Homo sapiens: one gene and its partners. The protein of the gene in region 2 interacts with the protein of the main gene of each other region in a biochemical or structural test. Each region holds a gene or a part of one and is shown on either strand. Other genes may lie near its edges.

Region 1 (7,032 bases), on a different chromosome or scaffold from region 2:
TGATGGCAGGAGGGGCTGGGGGCTTCTTCAAAATGTGTCAGCACACGACGGGCCAGAGCAGAGAGGCAGGTCTCATGCAGCAGGTTCTCACACTTGACCTCGCATGACAAAGGAGGGACTGGACACATCAGGGGAAGCACCCCGGAGAGGGCACTGAGCACGTTACTGCCAAGAGACAGTCACAGCTGCCCTGTGTAGTGGACATTCTCAACCCCATTTCAGAGAGGAGGAAATGGACATCCAGAGAGGTCCAATAACCTGCCATGGGTCACACAGCCTGTAAACCATAAAACAGGCATTTGAATCTTGTTCTCTCTAACACCAATACCCAGTTGGCAAGAAACTGAATGGAGACATCACTTTGCTGCTAGAGGAACTGGGCATGTGGTGCATCCAGAATGCTAGGAAGTTTGGGGGACATACTGCCAGAGCCCAGGGCCCTGAAGGCAAGGGTCAAGTCTTGCTCATCCTTGTGACCCTGAGATCCTTGTTTGGGATCCCACGTGGGGAACAGAGCAATGACAGGAAAGTAGAAGATGACTGGGCATGGTGTGGTCAGTGGAAATCAATAGGCTTTCATGGGGCAGGCTGACCAGTGAGGGTGGATGTTGCCATTGCTGCTAGCATCACAGAGGGGATCCCAGGCAGCACTTTCCCTCCCTCTCCTGACCTCTCTTATCAACTCTTCCTCTTCTAACAATTTCTCTCTTTTCCTGCTCATCAGACTAAGCCCTCAACAGGCAGTCACATTACGGAGTTGGCCACATCCCAGGGACCTGCTGAGCACTTACCTGTCGGTCATCTCCATTCTTGCAAAGGACAAGAACCACTGGGGCGCCAGGGAACAAGGTGATGACTGACAGGCACAGCTCCTCCTGGAGGATCTGCTGGGTGTATGTGAAGGCCCATACCTGGGGAGAAAGAGACCAGGAAGGTTTGTTCAGGATCCAGGAAGCCACCACTCGTGGGATACAACCACACTTACGGGTGTGATTAGCACAGGCTGGTAAGAAGCACCAAGGGTCCCAGTAGGCAATGATCATCAAGGTTACCTTGGAAAATGCTACTCAAGTGCCAGAGACTCGGAGGTCATATCTCCATGGAAATCTCCATCCACCCCATGAAGGGGCCTGGGCCTGGGCCATTCAGGCTGCCTCTGGGAGTCCTGAACAATTCTGGGCTTTGGGCAGGAGTCTGAACAACAACCCCAGCTGAGCTGTGTGCTCCACAGTTTTTGTTTGGAGAAAACATCTCGAGGGGGTCTGTTCCCAGCACTTGACATTTCAAGCAGCCATCTAGCAGGTCAACTCCCCACCCCTCCATACCAGATATCTTTAGACTCTCCCCTGTTCTTTGAAAGGCAGTCCAAGTCAGTGTCCAGAGCACATGAGACTAGAGCACATGAGAGTTATGACAAGAGGCAGATGGAAGGATAAATGGAACAAGTGTTCCAAGGGAATGAATAAAGAAGGGTCTAGGGAAAGAAGAATGTTATGAGGATTCAAATTATTTCAGGAGGGTGCATGTGCCAGGATAATAGATCTTTTGGCCCCTGAGCTCTTTCAGGGAGCGAAGCTGAGAAATTGGATTGACAAGCAGAGTTCTGTTGGCATCAGGAAGAAGGGCATGCTGTGTCATTCATTATGAGGAATGATTCCAACATTTTTCCTCCAAAGTACCAGAGATCACAGAGTAACTGGATTATGAAGCCACAAGCACTTCCCAGTTCTTAAGTCAGTGGGGCAGAAAGTACTGGCATAAGCGTTTTCTCCCCCAGGTTGTAAAATAAGGTAATATTTACCCTTTGCCTCCGTCTGGGGGCAAAGATGATTCCTGAATTGGGTCCCCTGGGGAAGCTGCGGAGGATCCTTTGAGGGCTGTATCTGTTTCCACCACATCCCTGAAACAAGTTGACCCTGAGCCTCTGGACCAGGTTACTCATTGGCTACTTCCCCTTGGCCCAAGAATGAAAAAGTCCACTTAGCAGGCCAGCCTCCTACTCTAGGACAAGGTGTCCCCCAGGCAGACATGGTGGTCATCTGTCTCTCGTTCTCCATCTTCCCTCCTGGTCCCTGGTCCTCTCCTGACCTCCATGGGCTGCTGAAAGCTTTAATTGTTTTCTGGGACCTGGGTGGTTCGGAGGAACCACTCCCACAGGCTCAGGACCTTCTGCTGTCCTGAATACGTCCACCTTGAGTCAACCTGACTTGCTGTACAATGACGCCTGGCTCTCTTGATCTGGGACTCACCGGCCTAGTGGGAGAATGGCTCCTGCATTAGGATTCTTTTATCCCTTTTCAAACTGTTGGTGTTGGGAGAAGACCTAGATCAGAAAGTACTCCCTGGGGAGAGATGCAAATATAGATGAAACAAGACTGTCCTTGAGTCTTGTTCTTAACAGCAGGGCAATGGGTACATGGGCGTTCTTTATACTATTCGACTTCTGTATCTATAGATATTTGAAATTTTCTATAATAAAAAGTCATGAGATACATTCCTTGGGACATATCAAGAAGTTCTTCTCTGGCCTTGTGACCATCACATTCTACACATCCCATTTGCCTTTCTCCAAGATAAGCTGAAAGGGGAAACAAGTCTGTCCGCACAGAGGTGGTGCAATGACCAGGCTGCTGCTGCTGCTGCTGCTAATAAGAGCTGACATTTATTGAGCGCTTATGATGTGCCCAGCATTATCCTGACAACTTTACACAGATTGATTAATTTTCATAAGAATCCTATTAAGTAGGTATTACTATTATCCTCATTTTATAGATGATGAAACCAAGGCTCGGAGAGGCTATCCAAAGTCATACACCAGCAAGTGGCCCCCACACCAACTTTCTCCAGCAGCTCTGCTCTTGTTGATGCTGGAGAGTTAGGGCCGGCTCTGAGCTCTTTTAGATAACCTTAATCCGGGGAGAAGACACCTGCCCCTGAGATTCTTCTTCCAGGTTGTAGACATTAAAACCAAAGATCAGCTCCACCTTGACAGGGGAGAGTGGCAAGAGATTCTTCTTCTTGGCCAGTTCCCAATGACAACCTTTATGAAAAGATGAACAAAGGTTGTACCCCCTTGCCAAGGTCTGGGGTGGGGCAGGCCAGAGAATAGTGCCCTCTCTAATAGAGTAATTCGGCCATGAGTATGAATGGAGGCCCACACTCCTGATTCTACACCAAACCATAGGATACACACAGTGCTGGCTTCTAGCCTGAGCCGCCCCGCCTTTTTCTTCCCCTACCTTGGCTGCATATCCAAGCTGAGTCATTCCCCTCTAAATGGTCTCCCTTGGACCTGGGGATGTGTACTAGAGACACAGTCCACCCTCGGAGGACAAACCCAGGGATGAGACCCACGCAGGGTTTTGAATTAGGCTGGGGCCATTTGGGTGGGGGATTCTGAAGTCCTAAATATCCAGAATGTGATCTAGAAGGTGGGCCTAGAATATTCCTTGGCCTGTGGGGAGGAGAGAGAAGGGCCAAAAGGTCAAATGCAACAGCTGGACTACCAGGAAGCCATATGCCCTGAGATCAGTACAAGGGAAAGACTAAGTTCATTCCTTCTGACCCATTACCTGACTATAGAGTCTGTAGGGAACCACAAATTAGTATTTCAAAAATGAATCCTGCCATTATCTTACAATCACCATCATACAATGACATTGTGTTTTTTGTGTTAAAAGCATTAACTGATTAAATATAAAAGCCTCTTTTGAGAGCCCACTTTGGCATTTCTTCTTTTTTAATATCCTAGGGGTCCCAAAACTGGAAGTGCTGGATGGGTGGGTGGGTGGGCAGTTATTTTGACATCCTCTACCCTTGTTGTCCACAGATGCCTTTCAGGAAGAAATGCATTTGGGCATCTGGTGTGTCCCCAGGCCGGGACTTGATGAAAACATCTCAAAGACCCCCAAGGAGAATGTGTGAACAGGCACAGCTAATGAAGCCCTCATGCTAAGTGGACTTTCCATTAGCTGGTATTTCCTGGCATTTCAATAACTTAGCCTCGTCATGTCCCAGAGGAAGGCTGATGTCTGGCCACATCTGAAAGAGGAGAGGAGGGAGGAGAAGCAGGAAACAGGAGCATACAGGTGGGAAGCAAGGAGAGCATTTTCGGATTTCCATTCTGCAGCCTGTCAGACTTCCCAGAAGGGCCATGATGAATGAGTTTATTAAAAGAATCCTGCAGTCAGAAACAGACTCCAGGAAGGCAGCAGAGGTTGCTCAGCAGGTCTGGCCTGGATTCGCTGAGTGCTGGGCCCTCTGCTGGTGGCTTCGTTTGGGGGCCTGGCAAAAGCCTAGCCCATGATGGAGGTCCTGTGGCAGGCCAGGTCTCCCTAACAGCTGAACAGGCAGGCCTCTAAGACAACTTTCAGCCCTGACTGAGTGGGTAAGTTAAATGTTAAAGGCTGAAAGGGCCAGTGCCCTTTTACAAAAGCTTATATGTAACAAAAGCCCACCAAGAGTTTGTCTAGGCTTTTCCTGGGCCTTGAAGCATGACAAGATAATGAAGGAATTCTTAACAGGACCTGTTTAGGATTAAACAAGTTTTATCAGGGGTCTGAAGAAACTCCCCAGACCTCCACAAACAAGTTTTATTGGGGTCTGAAGGAACTCCCCAAACCTCCATGATTTAGCAGGAGACAAGATAAGAGTAATCACCCCAGCACCTGGACCCATCTAGATTAAGTAAATTTACTGAGGCTCCAGGAGAAGGTCTTCAGGACTCAGACCTTAGTTATAGATTAGAAGAAGTTAATCACTTATGTCTTTAGATGAATGCACACTCACACGTAGACAAACAGCTTAGAAGGTATATAAGCTCTGAAAAACTTTGTAATTTTGAGTTGGTCTGGTGATAATTTCCAGGTTTTCTCTCTGTGCCCGGTTACAGAAATAAACTCTCTTCTTTCCCAGTTCATCTGCATCTCATTATTGGGCCATGAGAATAAGCAGCTCAACCCTCGGTTTGGTCCGGGAACCGTCCCTCCTATCCCAAAGCTGTAGCCATGGAAGGGCAACCCAGAGACTGTCCTTAGTTGGTGTGGGTGACCCTGCCCCCTCCACTGGGATAGGCCAGCTGGGGGCTGAGGAGGAGGGGAGTCACCAATGAATGAGGAGGGGATCGACTGGGTCAGACAGCCTTAAAACCTTCTGTGCTTGGAGGACACGTCTGGAGATGGCCACTGCTGGTGGGAGCAGGGAGGGGACAGGCAGGGGTCAGTAACCTTCTCTAGCAGATGCCAGTCTGGCCATAGCTGTGGAAGCTGGGATGCAGACGGGCCACAGCACCCAGCCTGGGGCTTGTGGTCTTGCACAGGATGGCGAAGCAGGGATGAAAGATTGTCTTAAGAGGTAACTAAAAGAGGGTCAGGCGCGGTGGCTCTTGCCTGTAATCCCAGCACTTTGGGAGGCTGAGATGGGTGGATCACGAGGTCAGGAGTTTGAGACCAGCCTGGCCAATATGGTGAAACCCCATCTCTACCAAATATACAAAAATTAGCCAGGTGTGGTGGCACATGCCTGTAATCCCAGCTACTCAGGAGGCTGAAGAAGGAGAATTGCTGGAGCCTGGGAGACAGAGGTTGCAGTGAGCTGAGATCATGCCATTGCACTCCAGCCTGGGCAAAAGAGTAAGACTCCGTCTCAAAAAAAAAAAAAAAAAAAAAAAAAAAAAGAGGCAGGAGTGAGGACGAGCCTGGGCCCAGGCAGAGGAGCTGCTCTTGGAATGGCCCAGGGCCCCTGCCTCTGGTAGGCAAGAAACAATCAGCCTGGAGCAGCGGCTCTCGACTCTCCCCACTCAGCGGACCTCTGGCAGTGTCTGCAGACATTTTTGGTTCTATGGCTGGGTGAAGGAGTGTTTCTAGCCACCAGTGGGTGGGGTCATGGATGCTGCTAAACATCCCATGCTGCACAGGACAACCCCTCAACAAAGAAGGATCTGGCCCTATTACCAGTAGTGCTGAGGGTTAGAAGCCCTAGTCTCACCTGAAGGGCTTGGGCTCTGCAGGTGGCAGGCCTGTATCTGAACCATGCCCTGGCATTACTCACATACCACCTGGGCAGTCTCTCCAAGCCTCCCTTACCCCATCTGTCAATACTCTCTCCAGGAGGGGTGACACCACCAGGCATGGGCAGGACAGCACTGCTGGTTTTGTTGTAGTTAGACAGCCAAAGTGACAACTGCTTGTAAGAGACTCTTTCAAGGGCCAGGCCTGGTGCTAGTTGCTTCACATTCATTGTCTATTTAATTCTCATAACCACTACGGTTCCCGTTTTGTAGAAGAGGAAACTGAGGATCAAAGGGGCCAATGGTTACTCTGGCAATGCCAGAAGCAGACCCCAGGGTTGATTCTGAACTTGGCCTCTCCTTGGTGAGGTGAGACCTGAGCCAAGTATCCAGGGCCTTGAACATCTTAGTCCATACTGGGTACCTCCACGGTCCCTGAGACATAGCCTTGAAGCTCTCCCTTCAAACAAGGCATCTAGAATGGATGAGCCTGAATTCAAATGAACTGCCCTCGTGATGCCTCTGGCTCTCTGAAGCATCAGCTGCAGTGATTGTACCAACTGTGACAACAGCACAAGTGAGCTGATGGCTGTGCTGGGGTCTGCCTCAGTCCCTCCCTGGTGGAGGCTTTTTCTCCAGAGGCAGCAGGATGACCTGGTGGGCTCCTAGACACACCTCCTTCCATTGGAAACTTTGATGAACCCACTTTTGGGGTCTTTTCTTTATTTCCAGCCCATTCTGTCCTTTCCTCCCATGTGGCAAGATTACACTTATATGTGTGATTAAAGCCCACACTCAGTACATCTTCGCTGGGTCATGTTGTTGGATCCTGGGGTGATACCAGGGCTAGAATCCCCACAGAGCTGCCTATTAACCTGTGAATTTGAGCGAGTTACTCAACTCTGTACCACAGTTCCCTTGCATGTAAAATGAGGATGACATCAGTCTCTAAGAGGGTCACTGCAAGGAACAAATGGGTTAATACCTATCCCAGAGTGGTGCTTTCCATTAGCAAATGCTCAATT
Region 2 (7,032 bases):
AGTTTCTAACATTCAGGGAAAAGTAAATGGTTGATGGCCCATACAATATTCTCTCTTTATCTAAGGACTTTCTTTGCCCTCAGTAGGCTATCTCTGTAGGATCCAAAGAGTTATTTTGAACCCCAGACCTGCATCTGGCTTGTGGGATAGAGGCATTTTGTCTTGTTAATAGGTCTTGTGGTGGTGAATAATTAGATTGAAAGATTAATGATAGTGCTTTAAATCTGAGTAATATAATTTCATGTTGGGATTGGTGCTAAAAGAAAGGTGGTAGTTCTGCACTCATGAATCACATCTTGTAAATGACAGAACACTTTACAACATACAATATACTATTGCTCCACCATGTCGTCAATAATTCTGTTTAGTAGATTCTTCATATATAAAAGAAATCGAGAAATTTTATTTTGGCCAGGAGCTGAAGTTGGTTGTTTAGTAGTAGTAGTTTGAGTAGTGACCGAAGTAGTAGTCTGGTGTGTGGGTGCAGCTGAAGTTTCAGAAGTGTCAGGTGCAAGAGTAGTTGGGGAAGAATTAGGTGTGGTAATTGGGGCAGCTGTGGTCTCTTGTGGAGCTGGGGAAGACGGTGGAGCTGGTGTAGTTGCAGAAGGTGTGGGTGGGGCAGCTGTGGTCTCTGGTGGAGCTGAGGCGGATGATGGGTCTAGGGTAGTTGCAGAAGGTGTGGGTGGGACAGCTGTGGTCTCTGGTGGAGCTGAGGAAGATAGTGGAGCTGGTGTAGTTGCAGAAGGTGTGGGTGGGGCAGCTGTGGTCTCTGGTGGAGCTGAGGAAGATGGTGGAGCTGGTGTAGTTGCAGGAGGTGTGGGTGGGGCAGCTGTGGTCTCTGGTGGAGCTGAGGAAGATGGTGGAGCTTGTGTAGTTGCAGAAGGTGTGGGTGGGGCAGCTGTGGTCTCTGGTGGAGCTGAGGAAGATGGTGGAGCTGGTGTAGTTGCAGAAGGTGTGGGTGGGGCAGCTGTGGTGTCTTGTGGAGCTGGGGAATTCACTGGTGCTAATGTAGCTACAGAAGAGCTTGTGTTAACATTTTCTCTTGAAGATATGGTGGTGGCATTCTGGGGAAGAAAAGTCACATTTGGAAGGGTAGTAATTTTGGTGGAAGCTGATGGGAAAGTCACAGATGGAATTTGGGTTGTAGCCACTAAGGTAGGGTTGACCACACTGCTATTTTTATCTGGATGTTTAGGTGGCTGGTGAGGATTTGGGAATTTGGGGGGGTTATTAGGTGAAGGTGGAAGCTTAGGCCTACAGCGTTTGTGCAGACATTTATAGGACTTTCTAATGAACGGCTTCTGGTGAGCTAGCAGTCCAGGATAATGTGGTAATTCAAAGTGAGATTTGGGTGATTGGTGATGATGCCTTCTGTGACGTAGTTCATGATCCCTTTCTCGACCTTCACTGAACTGCAGAAAAGAAAGAAAATGTAAGAAATGAAAAAAGTATCCATTTATCAATCAGGTGATCACTGCTGACCATGAGATGAGCGGTATTTGTGGAATGCTGGGATTAGAAACCAGAGTACATTATTGAGTCAAGTGATTATCTTCCTAATTTCACCAAGTTTCAAGAAAGAATTGCTACTAGAGAGTTTTCTTTTGTCAAATGTCTACTCTCTAGATAGCTGGGATGAATATATTCCTGTGGGTTCTAGCTTGAATGCTTAGCTGGATACGAACTTTTGTGCTTACAGTTCCTCTCTTCTTCCTCTGGTGGAAAATGGTCAAGTTACTGCCTGAGGTCCCATCACAAAAGCTTCCTGCTTGCTCAGCCTGTTCACAAAACTTTAGTCAAAGACATTCAACTGAGATCCAGGAGCCCTTTCTAGATTACACCCCTCATATCTACCATCATCAAAATACGAAACAGCCAAACAACAACAAAGCCCCAACAAACAAAATATCCCACCCCGGCTTCATGTTCTCCATATTTCAGGAAACAGTTTTTAGCCTTTATAAATTGGAGAAACAACTTTGGTCATTACCTTTTAACTTTATTGTTTAAAAAATTAGAATTATAGAATTCATGATTCGGGGGTTCATGAGTCATCTGATTTTTAGAGAAAATTTGCATGTTTATGCATTTTGTCTGGATAGAGCACCAATGGTTTTCATGATTTCTGAAAGGTGTTTACATCTGAAAAGAACACTGATCCAGTCCAACTGTACATCTGATACTTGATCTTTTATCAATACACCTGCTGAAAGGCTTTCTAGTCTATGCATCTAACCTCTTCTGATTAGGAACTCACTACTGTAATTCCTAAGGCCGCCTGGTAGAGAGTTCTTGACACTGAATGTAGGTTTGTTTTTTGGGATTTTCATTCTTAACTGAGTAGAATTTTCTTCATGAAGATTTCCATCCTTTGGTCCTAATTTTGTTTTGGCAGATTTACAGAAGATCCAGAAGTCTTTCAAAATTTGAAAATAACTTCTATGCCATGTGGGTCATCATTTTGCAAGATATTTTTATTTCCTTTAGCCATTGCTGACATTATTTGAGTTAGAGTACCATCACTGTTTCAGTTTCTTATCTGTAAACATACTTCATGCCTTTTATATCCCTCTTCCCTGTATTCAATCTCATACTACATTTTTTAGTGATCAGTTATATTAAATTGGAGAAAAGAAATATAACAGGATAAATGAGAACATCCCAAACAAGGATAGGTTACGTTTTCTTCCTAATGATGTTCACAGAAGCCCTTTTTAGATGACCAAATGGGTAAATCATTCCAGTCGCAAGTTATAAAGCTTTCTTTGGACACAAAGTTTAGTGCAGATGAAGTGACAACTTCTGAGAGACTAGCTGAGTTGTTTAACTAAGATAACTTCCTCAGAGACTAATATATCCAACCTCAAAAATAGCTTCTAGGTACTGGGCTTTCAGAGGTGAATGAAACAGGGACCATCGTGAGGCTCATGTGATTGAGGGAATGAACCACATAACTATTTCAAAGCAAAGAGGTCATAGAATTAGATTTTGGATCTGGAATTTAATTTAATCCGAATCATTTCATAAATGAATAAACTGAGATCCAGGCATATTAAGTGACTTGCCCAAAGTCATTCAATTATTCAATGCCAGACATAGGACAGACTAAAACCTCCACTGCTGGTCTGTTGCAGTGTGTTTCAAATATGTTCCTCTAAGATCTGGACATTCTCCACAACATCCATCAATACAAGAAAGTATTATTTGTTTAGAAAATTAAATTGTCCAGGAAATTTTAATTCACAACTGAGAACAACCAATAGCTAACATAATGGCTTCTGATACTCACATGACTTTGGTATTTTTCCATAAATCTCTCTTAAAAGGGCATAGGTTTTCAGAATCGGTAACACTGACTCCAGGAATCTCTGAGGAGATCCTTTCCATTACAGGGGTAGTTGTTTTCTCATATAAAATAGAACAGGTCATATTGTTCAAACAGATCTTTCCCTGGAGATTGAATATGCAATCCACATAATTAAGGACCTGCTCTGACTGAAGCAGGATTGAGGGCCTCACATTCCATGATCTCGGTCTTTCCCTTTCCAGATGGTCTCTGAGGATGTTGCAAAGAATGTCCAGATCTTATAGGAACATGTATGAAACATGCTGCAACAGACCAGCAGTGGAGGTTTGGCTCTGTCCTGTGTCTGCCACTGAATAGCTGAGTGACTTTGGTCAAGTCACTTAATGTGCCTGGATGTCGGCTTATTCATTTATAAAATGATTTGGATTAAATTAAATTCCAGATCCAAAGTCTAATTTTATTTGCTTTGAAATAGTTATGTGGTTCATTCCCTTAATCACATGAGCCTCACGAAGGCCCCTCTTTGATTCACCTCTGTAAGTCCAATACCTAAAACTATGCCTGGCATATGGCAGGTACTCATTAGCTATTAATTGAATGAGTAAATGCATGGAAATGATAACAATAACTAATTTGTTATTGAATAAAGTATTAACATTTAAAAGTGTTTATTCATATGTAAAATAGTTTCAGCTATTTTACTTTAGGTGACCAAAATAATACCTACCACATTTTTATATGAAGGCAAATTGATTAAAATCCTATTAATTTTAATGTTAGCTTGGCCTGGAACATGTATCAAATGACCAGTTTGTTTGATTTACTTAATATATTGATTAGTTATTATGATTGGCAGTTACAGGTGGTTATAACAGAAATTGTAGACTAGAGTTGGATTTAGAGAAGTCTGAGAGAGGAAGGAGTTGAAAATGCATGCCTCTAAAGTTTGAGTTTAGGTGACTGAAGTATGGAGGTCCTTATAATAAATATAGATATGCCAGGGAGGGTGTATTAAAGATAGCAACCCTGCCTGCCTGTTCACATTCATTATTTATTTTTATTAAAAAAGTCTTCATGTAACACTTTATGTTAGGCCCTATTCTGAGTGGTTTACAAATACAAATTTATTTAATTTCTTAGTAATATCATAAGGTGGGTACGGTTATTATCTTCATTATATGGATGGGAAAACTGAGTCTCAGACTAAGTAACTTTTAGGAGAATGTTTCTCCATTTGCAAACTGTACTTTTGAGAGCAGAGAAGAGGGAGAAGACATGAGGAACAAGGATAGAGTAGGCTGGAGTCAAGGGAAGGAGAAGGAGAGACACATGGCACTTGCAGCAAGAAAGGAGGGTATGAGAAAGCAGAAGACTCCTAAAATAACTAGAGGAATGCCAAATTCTCTGAGGAAGGAAGAGGAGGAGAAAATTAGTCAGAAAGGGAGAGAATTAGAAGACAGAAAGGCCAAGATTACATTTTTTACTTTTGTATTTTGAGACAGAGTCTCACTCTGTCACCCAGTTGGAGTGCAGTGGCATGATCTCAGCTCACTGCAACCTACGTCTCCTGGGTTCAAGGGATTCTCCTGCCTCAGCCTCCCTAGAAGCTGGAATTACAGGTGTGTACTGCATGCCTGGCTAATTTTTGTATTCTTAGTAGAGATGGGGGTTTCACCATGTTGGCCAGGCTGGTCTTGAACTCCTGACCTCAGGTGATCTTCCCGCCGCGGCCTCTGAAAGTGCTGGAATTACAGGTGTGAGCCACGGCACCCGGCCCAAGATTACATTTAATTGAAATTAGAAAGCACAATTCATTTCTTCATTTGCTACCAGCTTATTTTTATGACCATTTGAAAATCTGTGATCCTTTTTTAAAGAGAATGAAAGCATTATGCTAAATAATGCTATAGTTGACAGAGCTCTTCATCTGACTCCAGAATACATCCCTTCAAGTCTTTCTTTGGGACATCTGGAAGAGAGAAGCCAGACTATCTGCTCCCTGAAATCACTCCACAAAAGCAGGTTGTTGCTAGAGCTCCAGGACTGACCTTTTCTGGCTGTGGGTTAATGCTAATCTCCGGTACATTCCTGTATTTTCTTTTCTTTTTATTTTTTTTGAGACGGAGTCTCGCTCTGTCACCCAGGCTGAAGTGCAGTGGCACGATCTTGGCTCACTGCAACCTCTGCCTCCCAAGTTCAAGTGATTCTCCTCCATCAGCCTCCCAAGTAGCTGCAATTACAGGTGTGGGCCACCACGCCCAGCTAATTTTTGTATTTTTAGTAGAGACGATGTTTCACCATGTTGGCCAGGCTGGTCTCGAACTCCTGACCTCACATTCCTGTATTTTCTAAGGATCAGGTCAAGGTATTTCTGTGCTACCTTCTCATATTCAAGTTCTTTGGAAACTCTTTCTCTCACCAGGCACTTTTTTGAGATTTGGGCAGCTTGAAGAGTTTTATTTATTCTAAGCACTTGGAAGAAAGGATTCTTTAGGTGTCTGGATTTGAGGGAGTTATGATGAAAGGCCACTTCAAAAGAACAACCCAGATTCATCATTTCACAATAACATGACTTGTGTTGATTGGAAAATTATTTCTTTCAATATAGAGGTGTTGGTAGCCAGGGATTCCTTATTAAAACTTTACTTATTAAAAAGTTAACATCACTGTGCATATTCAGAACTTAAAGCCTTATCAACTAGTATGTAAATTGAGATTACAATAATCTTGTCATAATTTTTATATCTACACTATAGTTTATAATTTATAAATTCTCATTTACCCTTCAGCAGCCCTGTGAAGCATATAGTGTTGTTATTATTTTACACATAGGGAAATTGGGGCCCTATAAATAGATTCTAAATTGCTCAAGATTCATCTGGATGGTAAACATTAGAGATGAGTTTAAGCCCACATCTTCTGAGCCCAGCTTGAACACTCTTCTAGTCACAGAAATCAGCATTAGGGTCCGGGAAAAAGCCTGATTGTTTTCTGGGGGATATTATAAGGTAAGTGAGAAATATGAGAATATCCAAGAGTAAATTCCGTCCACTTCATCAGTTCTTCTGCCCTCTCTCTCTCTACTCTACTGGCGTAATATTCTGAGGCTATCCATCCTCATTCAATAAAAAAGTACATTCCACTTCTTGATTCTTATTTGAAATTTTGTCAAAATAAAATTTAATAAATACTTGCAGGTACATAGCATGAGAGAAAAATATGGTTATTATTACAGCATGTATCACCTTGTAATCACATTATATCATTATTAATTTTAATCTTCCTTTGCCAGTACACCCTAAATTTCTTAAAGATAGAAGGTCCACTTTGTAGTCTTCTCTTGGTTTTGGAAGCCATCCTTTCCTGTCCCCTCTTGTGGGTCCTCCATTTTCTCTATCCATATCTAAACTTCCTACATTTTCTCCCTAGGTGAAAATGTTGTAAGGTTTCATGGCTTCAAGTATGTTTTAAATATAGACTTTACCCCTAGATTTCTTTCTGAACTCCAGACAACATATATCCACTGTTTTCTTGATATCTTGATGTGGAAGTCTAATAGCCATTTCAAATGTAACATGCCCCAAACTAGAACGTTTTTGTTCATTTCTTTCTTTTTTTTTCTTTTGAGACAAAATCTTGCTCTGTCACCCAGGCTGTAGTGCAGTGATGCAATCTCGGCTCACTGCAAACTCTGCCTCCCAGGTTCGAGCAATTCTCCTGTCTCA
Region 3 (4,486 bases), on a different chromosome or scaffold from region 2:
CTGTGCACGTGTGCACTGTACACCTCCAGGGGATGTACCCTAAACCACATGAATGTGATTTGCACATCCAAGATTTACAGTGTACTATAGGGAGAATCTTTTGCAACAGCTTTTGCTATAATACAGAATCTGAGATGTCTTTGAGAAAGAAAAGTGTAATCATTACCAAAAAATTATTCTCATAATGTGTGCAAATTTGTATGAAATCTATATTGGCCATGGGACAAGGAGGTATTTCCAGCTAGCTTCTGAAAGGGCTCTATTCTCTCATAAGAATTCAGCTGTTGACATTAGGTGATATCTGCCCAGGTCATCAGATGCCATAGAGAAAGAGGGTTTGCTGAAACTTATATCAGCAGTGCACTGTATGCTCTTTCTGATTTATTTGAACATTCATTTATTGAGTGTCAAGTAATGCACTAGATACTCCAGGGATCTGACACAAACTCTGCCCTGAAGGAGCATGTAATCTCACTGGGGAGAAAACAAAACATATGATAATTTCAAAATAACAAACTAGGCAAACTAGTTAACACTTAAAAAGCAGGCTTTATTCAAATGCAAAATTGCATGTTACAGGGTAACCTTTCAGTAAGAAGCCAGGAAGAGGAGCTCATCATGGGTTGGATTAGTAAAGGACTAGTTATAAAAGAAGTGGTGGGGTTGAGGGAGGCCTGAGATGAAATTTAAAGAATATGTAGAATCTAGGTAAGTGGATAAAAGGTCTGGGGGCAGGGGAAAGGAGAGCATTTCATTGTGAATCAAGGAATTTCTCCACCTGTTTTAACTCTTCCATATGACATCAAAGAGATGTCACTTGCAGCTAGCATTTCAGTGATGTTTTCTTACTAATAATATCGTGATAAAAGAAACATTGACTATAAGAAATAGGAATGGGTCTCATAAAAGGAAACAGCAAAACCCCCAAACTAAAAAACAGCGCAGGCTATTTCTCTCTTCTCTCCTTTTGCTTGGCACTCATGAGATGCTAGGTGTGGAAGTCAGCCAACTGAAAAAGAGAGGTGGCTGAAGAAGGTGGGGAGGCTGAAGCCAGTTAAATAGGATGGTCCAATTCACAGACGGCGAGGCTACAGTGCAAATAGGACTCTTTCAACTTGAGCAGGACCCCATTACTTCACTGGAGTTAGAAAGAAAGGAGAGCGTAGACTTTTTGAACTTTCTATAAGAGTGTACCTCCACAGTATACAGAAGACGACGTGAAATTTGATCTGCAAGAAAACTGAGTCCATATTCACATATGTATCAAATTTGCACTTCATTTAGAAGTGTCTGTCATCAAGTACAGCACTGAATTGAAACTGAAAACAAGAGTCAAGAAAGAGCAAAGTCAGCCATCTTTATATTCCACATGAATCCTTTCCCTTTATGGTCTTATTTGTTTCTCCTCAGAAAAGACAAAAAGCTGAGCTGTATAAACACCTGTGGGCTGGGGGTTGAGGGATAAATGAGGGGCGAAATGGAAGCTGAAGGAACTGTTGGTCAGGTAGAAATCTTCCCAGATGCACTGAAGGAAACACACTTCATGTTTGACGTAGGAGGTGCCACCACACAAAACGTTTCATGGAAGGATTTAAAGGATCTCATGATTTTTAGTATTCCAAGAATTTTCTTTCACCAAGGGCGATTTAATATGGGTCATTCATACTGAAAGAAAAACAAAAGATAATAAGAGTTTAAAAATTGCAAAACTTGGAGTGTTAGTAGTAAAGGTAAATATTCATTAGAGATGAGAAGAGGAGCAAGGAAATGCTTTCAGCTGGAAATCTCAGACAAGAGGCCAGGCTTTAGGAACCTCTGAAGATGAACAAATGTAAGCAAACCCTAGTAGCAGCACTTCTCAGATTTTCATGTGCTTACCACTCAGAGATGGTGTTAAAATGCAGACTCTGATTCAGTAGGTCTGAGTGGAGCCTGAGATTCTGCACCCCTAACAAGCTCTTTAGTGATGCTTATGCCACTGGCGCACAGACCCCACTTGGAGAAATTTTTGTGGTGCATACGGTCTTTGTCTCCAGATCTAATGAGTCTGAAGGACAGTGTAGATTGATTTTTTAAATTTATGTTTATTTTAATTTAATTTAATTTAATTTATTTATTTATTTATTTTTGAGATGGAGTCTCACTCTGTTGCCCAGTCCGGAGTGCAGTGGCACGGAGGCAGCTCATGCAACCACGGCCTCCTGGGTTCAAGCGATTCTTCCGCCTCAACTTCCTGAGTAGCTGGGAATACAGGCACGTGCCAGCACACCCAGCTAATTTTTGTATTTTTAGTAGAGATGGGGTTTCACCACATTGGCCAAGCTAATCTCAAACTCCTGACCTCATGATCCACCTGCCACGGCCTCCGAAAGTGCTGGGATTACAGGCGTGAGCCACCGAGCCCAGCTGTAGATTGATTTTGAGCAGTGGAAAGTCAAGGAATTAGAAGGCATGCTTAAATGGAAAGTGAAATTGGAGAAAATTTAAACTCATGAAATAGTGGTGGTTATAAACTCGTGATAAATTATATCCTGGGATATAATTTAATGAGATGGTAACACATTTAGTTTAAAGAAATAAGTGACACTTTTTTTGTGTGACACAACTGTCTTATTCTTGGAAAGGACAAGGAGAGAATGAAATATGGTATGTCTTCACAGCACCTTTCAAAGGGAGAACCAGATTCTGAGGAGCTGGTCTCATGATGAACTGTCAGGGTAAACCACAGTTCAGCAGCTGCAAATGTGCTTGCCAAAATAGAGACAAAAAAATGTTTCTGAAAACAAAATTTCACATATGCCCTCCTCTGAGGTTGGCATCATATCTTCCTGTGTATCTTGGGTGTAGCTTCTATCCTGCCAGAATTTAGACAGTAGAAACCAAATGAGGTGATAAACAGAGTCATTTTGCAGAAGAGTCAAAATAACCCAGCAAGAAATGAAACCACAAATGCCCAAGGAGTCATTCATTCACCATTCAAAAGCTAATAGAAATGAACACAAACTACTATGAAAATTCACCCAAGAACTTAAAAAAAAAAAAAAAGGCTCATGGTGTTTAGTGTGATAGTATTCATTTTACCTTTGACTTGTTCTAAAAACACACCATACTTCTACCCCACCCTTCCTCAGTGCCGTCACACAATGGTTTCAGTGTGAAAAAAAAAACCACGTTACTGGAAAAGGAGGGTGCCTGGGACTTGCCACTCTAAGCTGGTAGTCAAGGGTCTTGAGTTCTAAAAGCATACGCGTTAAGAGCATGATTCCTGGATCCAAATGAGTATGGATCTCAGCATTGCCATTTATTGTGACCTCAGGCTATTTTATTTCTCTGTGCCTGTTTCTTTATCAGTAATGAAGATGTTCATAGACCCTTCTCCCACAGACTTAAAGGCATATTTCATGATTTAAGACATGTAAACCATTCATAACAGTATACAACATGGAATTAATATTTGATAAAGGTTTATGATTATTGTAACTAACTCTGTCACTTGCTCAAGGCCTATAGAAAACTTACTTAATTAGTTCAACTACAAAAAGAGTTTGAATGTGATATCCACCAAGATCATATTCAGACCTAGAATTCTGTGATTCTTATGAATTAATACAGCCTTGGTCAATAAATGAGAGCTGGGCAAATAATTCTTCTTTGCTAGGCCTTTCTAGACCATCTGGTGAAGCATTCAAGACTTATGTTATTGGGGCCAGCCTTCCTTTCCAACTTCAACTCCACAACTCCTCAATAAGCCATGGGCTCAAGAAAGTTCTGCTCAGTGGCCCCTGAAAAATGCTTTCATAGTCTCACTACCATACCACTGCTTACACAATTTCCTTCCTACAGACTGCCTTCCTTTCCTGCTTTTCTCCATATACCTAAATCCTATCTATTCTTCATAAGCAACCTTCTTTATAACATTTTCTATAACCACCAAGCCAAATGACCTTTTCCTTCTTAAATATAGCACCCATTGGCCATTACCATGCTCTGCCTTGTATTTTTCTGATTTTTTTCTTTCTATATTCCTGTCTTAACTCCCCAGCTAGGTAATAATTTTCCTGAAATCAGGGACCAGGCTGACTCCTCTTGCTGTCTCAAGAAAGCTTAGCAGTTTCCAACACAAAAATGTTCAATAAACAACTATTAATTGACTGATTATAAAAAATCAGTGAACCATTAAACTTAATATAGCAATTTGCTTAGCATGGTAATTAGCTTTTTGCTAATATTCTTCCAGCCAGTCTCTCCTCCTGTGCCTCAAGGACATCTTAAAAAAAAAAAATCTAGTTGATCTGCTTCCATCTAGTGGCAATTAAAACAGGTGGTTCCGGTAGCCAGAAAACAGCTCTGGGTAGATTGTGCCAGAAAATACTTTCACTCAGTAGGTGCGAGTTTGAAAGAAATCTTCACATCTGTGGGTTTCCTGCCACAGACATAGGGAGACCAGCCCAGAGAAAGAAGCCTTTCCTCACTAGACTCCATTTGC
Region 4 (7,891 bases), on a different chromosome or scaffold from region 2:
CTATGGGGTAGAATGTTCAGCCTCTGCTGTCTCCTGTTTCTGAGCCATCCCCTTATGGCGAGAGCCACCCATGGCCCTTGGGTGGGCAAGAGGCCTGTAGCTCCCTGGCTGAGTCTGCAGAGGTTTGGGGACACCTAGCTGCCATACTCCCCCTTCATCCACCCTCATCCCGGGGAAATCCCAGGGAATATAATCTTGCCTTGGAAGCCTTTATAGAACTATCCCACACTGAGAATTAACCCAATCAGATGCAGCCATTTGTGACCCAGTGAGCATTAACTGGATGCCTGCTGTACAAACAGCACTGTGTGTCACGCAAGGAATGTGTAAGCGGACAGGACCAGATTTCACTTCTCACTGGAGAGGCAAAAATCCAAAAAGAGGAAGCTAAGAATGGTGGATGTGTTAAAAGAGAACAAATACCAAACAAATACCAGCTAATGGAGACATACGTGTCTCCATTAGTTGCCACAGCTCCTCTGTATTGTGAATTCTGCCAACCTCTCCATTCTCCAGGGGAGGGAGCTATGGCTTTAACTAGTTATGTGGCTTGTGGAAGTTCCCATAGCTAATAAGTAAGTGTTGGATCTAGGACTCCAACCTAAGCAGTCAGGCACTAAACTCCCCTACTCTTACCACTGGGCTAGCCTGCCTATTTAGGTTGGCAAAGTTAGAGACAGGTTGGAGATGGGGCTAGAAAAGGGTCTGGGTCAGATCCTGGAAAGTCTCCAATGCTGATCCAGGGAGGTCTTATTCAGGATGCAGTGAAGCTGTGACTCACGGGAGACTCTCCCTAGGGCAGGGGCAGAGTGAACTGAGACCTGGGAACAGGCAGAGAAGCTGTGGCCAACGAAGGCACCAGGGAAGGGCTAGTCTGAGTGGAGAGAGGGGACAGCACTGAGAACAGAGAAGGGGGCAGGGAGCTGGTATCAGAAATCAGCTTGGTAATGGGTGGGTTCTGGGGGTGAAGGGAGAGAGTAAAATGGAAGACCATGCCTCAAGCCGGAGGTGGGGGCTGAGCAATGACGGGAACCTGTGGGCAGAGTTCATTTCTTCCCCTAAGAGGAGCTGAACCAGAGTGACTAAAGGACCGCTGAGCTCCCTTCCAGGATTCCCAGTCCCCAGCCCCCCAAACACCAGGTGAAGTCTCCACGCTCTTACCTCCCAGCTCTGGAGCTGTGTGACCCACAAGCTCTTACCTCCCAGCTCTGGAGCTATGTGACCCCCTGAAGCAGGTCTAGGTCTGGCCCCTCCAAAATCTTCAACCCCACACTTGTATTCAGTGTCAGGCACTCAGATGCTGCCCACTGGACCTGGCTGGACACTGGCCAAAACACACATTCTGGGCAGACATGCAGTGCGCTGGCCTCCAAGGCAGGGGCCAGGACAGGAGTTACTCTCCCCACCTACCCACACAGCTCATGATAGGGCCCAAGCAGACTGCTCAGACTGATGGGAAACCTCATGAGTGCCTCCCAGCCCATGGCTCCAGGGCTAAGCAGACAGACTCCTCCACCCAATGCTCACACGGCTTAGATCCAGCTGGCCCCACTCACCCAACTTCTGTCAGCCTGGACACCCACGGGGAGCAGGGCAGGAATTCCACAGGGCAACTGCCACCCTTTCCTCAGGAAGGACAAGGGTTGCAATGGCACTTTGGGGTACAAGCCACCATCCCAATTGACTGCAGGATTCAAACTTCAGACCTCAGTAGGCGCCAAAACAACTAAAGATCCAAGTGAATATAAAACCCAGTGGTGCAACTCTGAGCCAGAATCCTGGACCACAGCCCATGACCACTTCCAGGAAGGCAAGGCTTCCTTCCTCTCCTGCCCCTCCCAGGTGGCCCTAACCCTGTGCAACAGGCCACTCGCCAGGGAGCTTGAGGGGAAGAGAACAGTCGGGTCCTGGCCAGTCCCAATCTGTCTTAGAGAAGAGAAGGATGACCAACACCCATGGGAAGGAATTTGGAGCAGGAGACCAGAAGGGCAGGGACAAGGATGGGTTTGGGCTCCCACTGCTGCTCTCTATCCACCGCCACCTCTTCCATCCAGGAAGCTCCCAGCCTTAGGTAGATGCCGTAAGACAAGTGGAGGCTGCACTGGGCTGGGGAGGTGTGACACCTGGGCTTTCACTGTGCCCCTCCCACTGCCTAGGTCCTGATGCCCATCACAGCCCTTTCTGCTGCGGCCTGGGACCTTCCCCTCCCGGTGCTGCAGGGAGCTCCGCACTCACGCATTTAGGTCACTAATGTGCAGCGCTGGGGAGTGCCCTCTGAGCACCCGAGAAATTACTTTGGTTATGGAACTGACAATTGTTTCCTTCCTTCTACTCCTTCCTTCTGTTTGGCTGACATTTCCCTCTCAAACCCTCTGACACAGGGTTCCATCAGGAGCACCGCACCCCTCCACAACCCTCTGCCACGGAAGGTGTGCGAATGCCCCATCTCCTCCTCACAACCCTGTGGACCCATGGTTAGGCCGTTTCTTTAAGTGAAGAAACTAAGTCTCATAAAGGCTCGGTCTTGCTGGGGTCTCACAGTCCTCGCAGGAGCTAGGATCTGGACTAGGGTCCTTGAGCTAGTCGCTCACCCTCTCTGAGCCTCACTTTCCTCCCAGGTAAAACGCATGTCACAATACAATGGGGACCAAATCCTTAGGCGGGACACAAAGGGACAGGGGCCTGGGAGGCCTTTTGAGAAGCTCTGAGCAGAGCTAGGCGTGCCCCGATCCGGCTTGAGGAGCCCAGCTCCTGTTCCTCCCCATGTGGGAAAGAGACTGGCCCCGCGTCCGGGCCGCCTCCCGGCTGTAGGCGCTGGGACCGCGGGGCGCAGAGACCCCGCGCCCAGCCAACCGGACACAGGGACCAAAGCGCCTAGCAGACAGGGCGCAGGAGACGCCCATCAGGCGGCTCGCGCCCCCAGGCACCTGCACTCACCGAGGGCCCCGAGGAACAGCAGGACGAGGAAGACAAGTTTCATGTCTGCGGTCTGGAGGCGACTTGGCAAACGAAGGCTCTGCCACTTGCGCCTGCCCTGCGCCCCTTTATTCAGGGCTTTGCCCCGCCCTGTTGCCCAATAGACACCCCTTCCCTCCCCACTCCCCGCGGCCAGGTCTACTTGTTCCTTGAGGATCCAGGCTCCGAAAAGCCCTGAGGCAGGACAGGACTCCACACCGCGCTGCGAGAGGAAAGCCAGCCTGCACCTCACCTGTCCTGGTTCTGCCTGGCTGCTGCGATGTTCTTTCTCTCCCACTAGTCTGCAAGCCCCTAGGAGTCGCAGCCCCCTGAGCCCTGTCCCAGCTCTGGTCTCAGTGCCTTCTAGAGGGCAGGACACAGAGCAGAGGGTCTTTACTTGAAGATCGCCTTGACCTGTGAGACTGCTATCTTCTTCAGCAGATGACCTTGAAGGTGCCTAGGAGCCAGTTAGGGCAGGTGGATTTGCTTTCACCTTGGCTCAGCAGTGAGCTGAGAGTTGAAAAGATGACCCGACCACCCCCAGCAGCAGCCTAGGGACAGCTGACAGAGAAAAGAGAGGCTGCCCAGAGTCTCAGGCAAGCTGCCCATGGGGTATCTCCCTGCCCTGCTGAGACCCACAATACAGCTCCCAGAAAACAGACAGGGACCTCAGAGGGGAATGGCCACCACCCAAGGCTGGTTCCATGTTCTTATTTGCCAATGAGAAAGATGCCCTATGGCTAAGATGCCCTACCACTTTTTTTTTTTTTTGTCTTTTTTTTCTCCATCTCCTCCTTCTTCTTTTTTGGTGTTGATAGTATTCAGTAGGAAATGGTAACCTCATTTTAACAATCGCCATAAATGTCAGATTTTAAAATTCAAAAGCTAGAATACTGCTTCTAAGAATACATCTCGTAAATACATTCCCATGACACACAGCACCCCAGGTACAAATGTTTCCAGGCACCACTGCATGCCATTAATCAGTTGGAAGCAAACTAAACATCCATCTCTAGGGGAGTGTCACATACAGCATGGTGCCTGTGGGACACATTGGGGGCCTCAGAAAGAATATCCTGTGTGTATGGATGTGAACTTAGCCCAAGAGTAACTAGGCAGGGCACAGTGGCTCATGCCTGTAATCCCAGCACTTTGGGAGGCCAAGATGGGAGGATCGCTTGAGCCCAGGAGTTCAAGACTAGCCTGGGCAACATAGGGAAACCCCCATCTCTACAAAAAATACAAAAATTAGCCCAGCATGGTGGTGTATGCCTATGGTCCCAGCTACTTGGGAGGCTAAAGTGGGAGGACCATTTGAGCCTGGGAGATGAAGGTGGCAGTGAGCCATGATCATGTCACTGCACTGCAGCCTGGGCAATAGAGTAAGACTCTGTAACCCCCACCAAAAAAAAAAAGGGTAACTAAGTGAAGAAAAAAGGTACTAACAGTGAGGGAAATAATAGGTCACCTGAACACCTTTCTTGGCAGGTGAGTCTGACCAATATGTGACTCTGAAATCTGCTTATTCTGAAAAGCTGGTCTTGACTCTGCTTAGACTACTTGGTACTAAAAAGCATTTCCTGGAGCAGATAGGCAATGCCCCAGGGAGCCAGCTCTGCCAAGAGTGAGCATGCAGTGGGCACCTAGCCATGGAGAAGCAGGCTCAGCCCAAGGTGGAGAGGCCATTAAGGAGGCTGGGGAGCCCCTCCATTTCTGGGCATGATCCTGCCAAGGCACAGGGTGGAGGCTAATCAGGGATCATGCTTGCCTGCCATGAGACTGGGGTCTGAGATTTGGTGCTAGAATCACCAGCTGGGTTTTGGGGTGACAGATCCAAGGTCTCTCATTGTTTGGAAACATGATATTGCACCATTTAAAGTTGCCATCATCAATAATTGCAATAAGTTCTTTCAAAAATACTGAAGAAATACAAAATTGACTAATTCCCAGGAGTGCTGAAGCATCTTTGTACCTAAATTGGCAACAAGACTTTGCCTTTTCATCATTATAAAAGAATTAAGAAACATCATAACCCGTGTCTCTTTTTCTGAGTCCAAATTTTAAAAAAGGATGACTGGGAGGTCAGAGGGCCCTGGGCCCTCTTAAGTATGTTACAGTGTTGGCAAGAACACAGAGAACCTGGGGCCACTACCAAGAGGCTCAGCTTAAGGAGTGCCCTGAAGGCAGCATGGGTAGGCAACAGGGCAGACTGTTTTCCTGCTGTGCCTGTTGGAACAGCCCAGCCCCAGGGCAGGGATGTGAGCATCTGGACACAGGCAGAGCAGCCCCTCAAGGCCATTTGCAGAGGAGGCTGATGTAGGGGATGAGTCTGCCCCAAAAAACAATGAAGTTTCACTGATCTATTAACAGCATTCATTCATTCATTCATTCATTCATTCATGCCAGAACTGGTAGATGCCATGAGAGACAGAGAAGAGGGGTCTGTCCTTGCCCTCAGGAGCTCACAGCACTATGGGGGAGGGACAGTCACAGGAATGCACTTCTATCACAGAGGCTCCCTAAGAAGAGGCCAAGCAGCATAAAGCAAGTGAGTGTGAGGGCCCAGAGGAGGAATGACCAGCACCCATCATGAGGGCTCCAGAAGAACTCCAGGAAGATTTAGCCTGGGTACCTGAAGGAAGGGTGGGATTTCTACAGGTAGAGCATTCTGTAAAGTAAACAACCAAACAAGTAAAGGCTTGGGAGCATGAACCCAGTGACCAATTACCTGAGCACTAGGGACAACAAAAGTTCCCTCTGGCTTTCTGGCCAGGAATTCTTTTTTTCTTTTCTTTTCTTTTCTTTTTTTTTTTTTTTTTTTTACCGACAGGGTCTCCCTCTGTCACCTAGGCTGGTATGCAGTGGTGGTGCAATCACAGCTCACTGCAGCCTTGACCTCCTGGGCCCAAGCGATCCTCCCACCTTGGCCTCCCAAAGTGCTGGAATTACAGGCATAAACCATTGCACCCAGCCATGGCTTGGAACTCTTGTTGGAAGAAGGATTAACAAAATCCTCCTCCTCTATCCTGAGCTCCACATCATGTGTTCATCTGCCTCTGGAAAGGTACTCTTGCAGGTCCTGAAGGCGCCTAAATTTAATGCATCGAAAATGCAACTCACCCAGTCCCTCCAACCCTGAACCTTTTCTCATATTTCCTACCGCTTTCCACCAAACCCACCAAAGAGCCGCAGAGGCACCCTCAAATCCTTTGGCCAGTTAGCTCTGTGCATGTTATAGGCACTTGATGATCAATATCGGTTGAAGGAATGAATAAATGAGGAAGAGGAACAGGCTAAGAAAGGGACAAAGGATCCTGTTTGTAATGTGTTGGGTCTGAAGGATAGTGAGGGTCAGGGCTGCCTAAGCCAGGCCATGCCAAAGCCTGTGTACATGGACTCATTAACTTACCCATTCATTCAACACTGGTCTATGGGACATCTCCAACGTGCCAGGAGTTGGGTCAGATCTCAAAGAGCCTGCAGGGAAGCAGAATGCAGGTTTCCAAATGCTGAGACAGTAACATGAGTTTAAGGAGCACAAAGAAGGTAGCTGCTGTGGAAACTGCCATGCAGTGGCAAGAGCTAGTGTTCAACAGGCAGATGTGTGAGGCTGACTCCCTTCCCCCTAACCCTGCTCTGCCCCCACCCTCAAAACTCCTCCAGGGAGCCTTTACAGAATTGCAGGCCCAAGCCCCATTAGCAGGCAACAGTCTCTGGCCAACCTAAGTCCTCCCTGCAAGCCAGTAAACCTCACACCCTGCCCTCTATGAGCCTCTAGCTTCAAACCCCAAGAAGAGTGTTGGGAAGGAAGTGTGAGATCTGAGTAGAACTGGCTTCAGGTGGGATAAGGCAGAAAAGGCCTTCCTGAGACATCAACTCACGCTTGGACAATAGCTTGGCAGATGGGAGACCTTGGGCCCTGTATCTTTTCCCTGCCAGTGGTGAGAGATTGCTGACTTGAGAACCACTTGTTAAACATTTAGGGATTTGGGGTGGGTTAACTGATGGCAGCTTGATATCAGGCATAGTCGATGTATTTATGCCATGGAATTAGCAAATGCTCTAAATCAGGGCTTCCTCCTTCCACACCCCCAGAGGGCCAGTTGACCAGCACACAGCTGCCTACGTTCATCATTGGTGGCATGCAGTGTCCACATTAGTGTGGGTGTGTTTGTGTATGGGTGGCTGTGCCATCCCTAGCAGAGAAATAGGATAATAATCTTTAATATTTGGATGACATTTTAAAATCCAAATAGTGCTGTCAGTGACTTTGTTTCACATGGCTTTAACAACGACTCTGTGAGTTAAGACAGTCACTCTTTCCATTCTAAAAACAGGTACTCTGAGTGTCGCCTGAGGTCACACAGTGAGTGAGATACAACTGCTATCCCTGAGTCTCCCATTAGGCCCACAGCCAGGGGCTTTCTCCTCCATGAGCCAAGAACCCTCTGAGAGCTCAGGGTGCAGGGACTGAGGCCCAGGGATCTCAGCACAAAGGGAACCTGGCAAGAATTGAACCTTCCGTGAAGCAGGCCCTGCCTGGCCCCTTCCACACATCAGCTGGCTTCTGATGCTCTGGAAATACCAAAAGGTGCTTGTTATACCTGTTTCCAGCTGAGTGGACTTGGGCAATGCACCCTGTTCATGGTCTCACAGCCAGTGGACAGTAGAGCTAGAAATCCACCCGGGACCCCATCCAGTGACTTCTTAGGGCCTTGGTGTCTTAGTATTGATCATTTATTTGCTGATCACCCTGAAGAGAGGGGCAGAGAATGGGGGAGAAGGAGAAAGAGATGGATGGAGAGCTGCCTGTGTCTCTACCCACCCAAGTCCCCCCAAGATCCCAACACAGACAATGACCTTGAGAGAAAGGCCCTCACATTTGGCCCCACATTGGCCCTTTTGAAGACAGCCAAAGGCCCTAAGAGTCTGGGAA

What was found.
Region 1: of the proteins of MUC7 (region 2) and GALNT14, one has a biochemical effect on the other in vitro, tested with the Homo sapiens proteins (one study listed by BioGRID).
Region 3: the proteins of MUC7 (region 2) and SELL form a complex in vitro, tested with the Homo sapiens proteins (one study listed by BioGRID).
Region 4: the proteins of MUC7 (region 2) and LTF interact in far-western blotting, tested with the Homo sapiens proteins (one study listed by BioGRID).

The regions. Positions count from the first base shown.
Region 1 is NC_000002.12:30,911,432-30,918,463, forward strand, and holds part of GALNT14 (polypeptide N-acetylgalactosaminyltransferase 14), read right to left. Parts: intron 912-7,032; coding exon 792-911; intron 1-791. UniProt on the Homo sapiens protein: Catalyzes the initial reaction in O-linked oligosaccharide biosynthesis, the transfer of an N-acetyl-D-galactosamine residue to a serine or threonine residue on the protein receptor.
Region 2 is NC_000004.12:70,475,179-70,482,210, reverse strand, and holds part of MUC7 (mucin-7 precursor), read right to left. Parts: intron 1,413-7,032; coding exon 333-1,412; 3' UTR 1-332. UniProt on the Homo sapiens protein: May function in a protective capacity by promoting the clearance of bacteria in the oral cavity and aiding in mastication, speech, and swallowing. Binds P.aeruginosa pili.
Region 3 is NC_000001.11:169,690,138-169,694,623, forward strand, and holds the end of SELL (L-selectin precursor), read right to left. Parts: intron 1,666-4,486; coding exon 1,647-1,665; 3' UTR 530-1,646; downstream 1-529. UniProt on the Homo sapiens protein: Calcium-dependent lectin that mediates cell adhesion by binding to glycoproteins on neighboring cells. Mediates the adherence of lymphocytes to endothelial cells of high endothelial venules in peripheral lymph nodes.
Region 4 is NC_000003.12:46,461,888-46,469,778, forward strand, and holds the start of LTF (lactotransferrin isoform 1 preproprotein), read right to left. Parts: upstream 3,019-7,891; 5' UTR 2,981-3,018; coding exon 2,938-2,980; intron 1,768-2,937; exon of another isoform or gene 1,557-1,767; intron 1-1,556. UniProt on the Homo sapiens protein: Transferrins are iron binding transport proteins which can bind two Fe(3+) ions in association with the binding of an anion, usually bicarbonate. Lactoferricin binds to the bacterial surface and is crucial for the bactericidal functions.